Regions from separate parts of the Homo sapiens genome. Here region 1 is linked to region 2. The links come from fine-mapping of genetic effects on gene expression. A gene starts in region 2. The other region holds a variant in brackets. All regions are shown on one strand. Distances are between the middles of the regions.

Evidence for each region. PIP is the estimated chance that this variant, and not a neighbour inherited with it, causes the effect.
Region 1: its variant is the best candidate, but not a certain one, in a credible set for the expression of ZNF334 in esophagus muscle (GTEx, PIP 0.62).

Annotation. Positions count from the first base shown.
Region 1 is chr20:46,351,056-46,353,968 of GRCh38, forward strand. It overlaps SLC35H1 (solute carrier family 35 member H1), which reads right to left. Exons shown (of 10, transcript NM_015945.12): 8 at 996-1,171. Among named protein-coding and RNA genes, the nearest start is that of SLC35H1, 12 kb to the right of the region's middle. RefSeq lists a silencer at 1-109 and enhancers at 225-816, 370-509, 520-579, 817-1,407. The variant C/T (reference allele first, on the strand shown) is at 1,553.
Region 2 is chr20:46,511,874-46,514,786 of GRCh38, forward strand. It overlaps ZNF334 (zinc finger protein 334), which reads right to left and starts at 1,686. Exons shown (of 5, transcript NM_001353824.2): 1 at 667-1,686; 2 at 209-267. The coding sequence starts at 229. RefSeq lists a silencer at 1,726-1,960.

The DNA of each region.
Region 1 (2,913 bases), 160 kb before region 2:
CGGCGCTGTCCCGCCAGCCTCCTTTTGTGAGATGCAACAAAGGAGGTGCTTGTCATGGAATTCTGTCAGGAATAAAAGAGGCAAACCAGATCCCAGGCTGGGGACCAGGGTGTCCAGATCGCGCCTTATCCACAAGGATAAAGGACGGCTGCCCCAGAAGGCAGCCACAGAAGAGAGCCCTGAGCCTATGTGTGAGAATGCTGTGTTACCCCGGACTGAAGACACAACTGGTCCCGGGGCTCTCTATAAACAGAGACTCCAAACAGGACTGGCAAGGCCGTTCATCCAAGAACCACAGCCATGCCTCAGCATGCGGCTGGCCACCAGAAGACCCTTGGACAGGCCTGCATTTCTGGGTTTAGGCAACACTGCTTCAACACTGGTGTGTGCCTGGCCAAAGAGAAAAGTCCCTCCCTGCCCCTGAACAGGGAGGACTGTTGAAATGTGTGGGAGGGAGAAGGAGAAGTGAGAAGAGGTATGAGAGGGAAGGACAGGCCTGCGAGGCAGAGGTACAGCAAGGCTGGCCACAGGGGTGCTTTCTCAGGGTCTCACTAGCCCTGGCCATGGCCTTGGAGGACACCGCCAGTCAATCACGGAACTCTTTCCTGATGAGTCTGGATAGGGGCTGTTCAACCTGTGGCTCCAGGCCACTGCCCAGTGCCAGAGTTGGCAGTCAAGGTAAAATGTGAATGCATTCCAGGCCTAGCAGAGTCAGAGCTGGCTTTGAGGCCCCTGCTGTGCCCTTGGGGAGGGGCGGCTCTCCATCTGTGTCCCTGTCTGTGGGATGGGAGTGATCATACCCTCTCACAGGGCTGTGGTCAAGGCAGAAGGAGGGGCCAGCACAGCACTCAGCAAAGTGCCTGGCACCTAATGGGGCACTTCCTTCTCTTCTCTGCAGGGCCCTGGGGTGCAGGAGCTGGGACTGAAGCTGCTGGTGAGAAACCCCTGGGGGCTCCCTCTCTAAGACAGGACTGGCATCACGCCCGAGTCTGTACCTTAAAAATGCCGGCAATGGAGAGAGTGAGGCTGGAGGTTCTGGAGACCAGGAGGAACTCAGAGAAGCCCAAACCAAAGGCGAGAATCCCGCCAAGGAAGAGGCTCCCAAGTACCCGCAGGAGCAGCCCTGTGTCCTGGAAACGGAAGATTTTCTCAGATGTGGACAAATGGAGACCTGAAAGCAACAGGGAGAGAGAGTGGGAGGCCGGGTCCTGGGCTGCCTTGGCCAGCCCAATGCCAACCACACAAGATCTTCCACTGTAGTAGTGAGTTCTTACTGAGACCTGCTAACTGTCTGCAGCCCAGAGAAAAAGCATGGAAGGTATAAAGTGATCCCACACAGATGGCCTGAGACCTGGGGAAACCAGGGAAGCAGTGATGGCTGCCAGAGCGCCTGGGGGCAATACAAGCCAGATCCTAGCAGGATGATGCGGATCCTAGCGGGATGATGGGACCCTAGCGGGATGATGGGGATCCTAGCAGGATGATGGGATCCTAGCGGGATGATGGGGATCCTAGCGGGATGATGGGATCCTAGCGGGATGATGATGGGATC[C/T]TAGCGGGATGACGATGGGATCCTAGCGGGATGACGATGGGATCCTAGCGGGATGACGATGGGATCCTAGTGGAATGATGGGGATCCTAGTGGGATGATGATGGGATCCTAGCGGGATGAAGGAGATCCCAGTGGGATGAAGGAGATCCTAGCGGGATGATGGAGATCCTAGTGGGATGATGGGGATCCTAGCGGAATGATGGGGAGGGCTCGTCTGAGCCTCTGGGGTGAAGTAGAGGGGGGTGGCCCTGCATGGAAAGACGGATGGAAGTGCCCTGCACCTTTGGACAGTATTCCCTTACTGGTCTGTGGGGAGGGGCTCATGGCTGCTGACTTCATGGGGTCTTTGGAGCTGTGGTAACTACTGGGCTAAAGAAGGTAGGGCGGCTACCAAGTGACGAAGGACCAACAGTGCCCCAGCCCACTCAGGGAACTCCTTGGTCTACATTTCAGCCAGTTCACCTACAAACAGGGACAAAATTCTATCCCTACAAACGTTCATTTTAATCTAGGTCTTGCTAGTACAGAGCTGTGGGACTTGGGCTGAGATGTGTCCCCTTTCTGGACCTCAGTTTCCTTACTGATAAAATGAGAGGCCTGGGACCAGACTGGTATTTCTCCAACCCGTGGTATCACTTGATGAACATTTCCCAAAAAGAAAATGCAAACACATGGCCCCTTGCTCCAGAAACACAGGCATGCACACCCCCTACCCCAAATTCAGCTTAGACTTTCGGAGGAGTCATGGTCCCTCCAACACTGTCCATCTGGAAGAATGACTCCCGGCGTCCCTCCCACACGAAAGTCCTCGTGGTGTATTAGCACAGGGTGAAGGGGGGCCCAGAACTGGGCACAAGAGACAACTGTGGTAGCTGGAAGCTGGACGAGTATTTTGAGATTTTTGGAGGGAAGCACCAAAGAAATGCCGAGTGACAGTCCCCCCAGGCAAAACAGCCTCACAGTGTAGGACATCTTGTTTGGTGCTGGGCTCAGCAGAACTGCAAAGGCGTCGGCAAATTGAAGGGAATTCGGGGAAGAGCAGCATAAGTAATGAAGGCGCTTGGGGGATTAATTTACCAGAAAAGATTAAAGGAGCTAAATCCATGCAGCTTTGCCAAGTGACGACTACCAGGGGCTTTCAGATGAGGTTTTGCAGAGATGGGGCATGGTGTAAACACACGGGAGGGGAGGGAGAGTGTGGCGTTTGGTACAAGGGGGCATAATGAAGGAGTGGGGAGAGATTTTAAAGAAGGAAAAAAAACGAGGCCCTGAACAGAAGTTTCCTGGACAACGGGGCTTCAGAATAATTTTCTTGGGGAGGTTCAAGACGCTTCACTGCTTGAAACTTAAATGGATGTGGG
Region 2 (2,913 bases):
CTATCTCATATTGTCTGGGCCTTTCTGGAACCATTTGAGTAACTCTATAGGAATATATGATTTCTGTATATCTATGTCCACTTTTCCAGTATTGATCGAATACTCTTCTCTGATGCTGAATTTTATACATTTCGTTTCATCTGCAAACTACTCTAAACCTCTTGAAATTCACTGTATAATGTGAGAAGTAAATCCCTGAGCAACTTACCTGAAATTTTTTCATTTTCATGTTCTCTTGAGAAAGGGCCAAGAGTGTTGAAAGCAGAGCTGGGTAAGGAAGAATGGCGAATGGAATCATGAGCGATTTGGCTCACACAGCAGCTCTACAATTACCTACAAAGCCACACACCCATTTAAAAACATGGCCCTTTGACCAGTCTGGTTCAGGAAGCAACATGTTGAGGAAACGTTCACTTGTCCATTTATAGTTCTAGAATGGTCTCATAGAGCTTTTCTTACTGAGTGAGTGTCAACAAATGTTTTCTACTGAATTACTGTCAATCTATGCCTCCTTTGAAAAAAATTGAAAACGTCTGAGTCCAATTAATAGGAGACTAGGTCAACGAAAGTTAGTATATACAAAGCCTGGAACACTATTTTGGCATTAAAATGGACTCTAGGATTAAAAGATTTCTTGGAATAGGAAAATGATATTATGTCACTTACCTGTTTTCCTACTAATGTGTTTAGCCACTTGAGATGACAGAATCCAGAGAGAATGAATGAAAGTGCTTTAAGGTGTTTGTCTTTTTGACAGTTTGGTTTCCCTTAGCTGCAGTTTCACAAGAGGACCTTTTACTAAGAAACTTCTTGTGGTAGGTAACGTAAATGTGGTAGATGACAAAAGCCCTGACCTGGTACTCAAAGGACCAGAATTCAGTTATTGGATCTGTCACTAGCAAACTGCATTACTGAAAAAAATATTTACTAAGTCGTAATTTTAATATAAGATAAATTGGTTTTTAGTCTTTCCTTTACCCCTATCGTGTAGCTCTGTAAGGGGTAAACTCAGTAAATCCCAGGTGAGGTGATGAACATGGTTGGTGCAGCTCTGAATAAACAGAGGGTGGAGATGGTAGGGAATGACATGTATGTGTTTAGGAAGTGATGAAGACATCATTTCCTTATTTATAACCAGTACTCCTTCCCTCCAACCCAGGACTCTCGCAGATACCTCCAGTGAAGTGTCTTTTCCTGTCAAATCTTGACCCTGCCCATTCCAGCTCACATCCTTCTTCCGAAAGTTGAACTGAACTTTGCTGAGCTATAATAATCAATGGCTGCAAGACTAAGTGCATCAGCAGAAGTTCTGGAAAGAGGTTCTAGCTACTTGGATGCGTAAACCTTTCACCTTCACCAAGCGCCTTCTTCGGGCAAATCAGGGCCCTAGAGAGAGCTCGCCCGTGGCCTGCAGGTCAGGAGCCCAATCCTGCCCTGGCTGCCTCGCCTCCCGACCACAGGAAACCCTCCCTCCAAAGACAGGGAGAGCGCGCGTCCACCCTCCGCAGACCCGAGGCCCGCTCCGCCCGGCCCCACCGTTCCCTCCGACGCCCGAGTGCTCAGAGCTCGCCGCCAGCCCTTCCTATAGGTTGTGGGTGCACCCGCTTCGCCTCCAGTTCGCACCAGGTCCAAGTCTCGGCGGGACCAGGGATTCACGGGCTGCAGGACCCTCACCCGGAAGAGCCTGGCGAACCGGAAGGGCGTCCAGGTAAAAAACAGGAACAGCACATGCGCAGAAAGGCCCCCGGGCCGCCTTTCCCGGGGCTCTCCCGGGCCCCCCGCCGGCTTTCCGGACCACAGTCCCCAGAAGGCGTCGCGGCCACCGCCCTACCCTGAGGGATCTTTGAGGAGCTTCTGCTTTAACTACAGAGTTTAGGTGACTGCTGTGAATCATCAATACGAAAAGTAAAGTTTCATATCCGTTTCACCGAAGTCTATAGATGAGAAAGGAAAATTCTGCGAAATGAAAATGACTGCTAAAGATATTCCAGCAGAATATAATACTAACGACCTGCAGAAAATTTCTCCCAAACAGGATACAAAATCATTGCTGGCTTTCAATACGTGAAGGTTGAAAATAAATCAGAATATCTCTGAAGAAAATGAACTATTAGCCGTAACCCCAATTCCCAGAGATATCCGAGTTTAACATTAGGTGCACATTCTTCTGACAGCTTTACAAAGAGGAACTCATATAGGTCTAGTAATTTGTTATTTTTTAAATTAGCAATATAGTTAATATACTTTAATACCACGAATTATCTCATATACATTGTGAGTAATATAGAAAATAGTTTTACATCCACAAGGAAAATACATACAATCATGCATGGTTTAACGATGGGGATACACTCTGAGAAATGTGTCTTTAGGCAATCTCGTCTTTGTGTGAACATCATGGAGGGTTCTTACACAAATCTAGACAATATAGTCTACTACACACCTAGGCTGTATGGTATAGCCTATTTCTCCTAGGCTACAGGCCTGTGTGGCATGTCACTGTCCTGAATACCATATGCAATGGTAACACAATGGTATTTGTGTATGTAAACATATCTAAACATAGGGAAGGTGCAGTAAACGTACAGTATTGTAATCTTATGAGACCACAGTTGTATATGCAGTACATCGTTGACTGGAACATTCTTATATTATGCATGACTGTATATGAATTGTATACATATTGAATAAATAGAACTTTATAAAACTTTACTCATTGGAAGGCATGAAAGTTTCTGACAAAGTTATAATGTATTATTATTCAATTCCAGAAAAGAACAATTAGCGACTGGTGGTAGCTAGTCTTCAAAGATGGCCCCCAATGAACTAAACTTCCCAGTATTCCAGGCTTGTATATTTCCCTCCCACGTTGACTTTGACTGACTCTGTGACTCTCTTTAACCAAAAGAATGC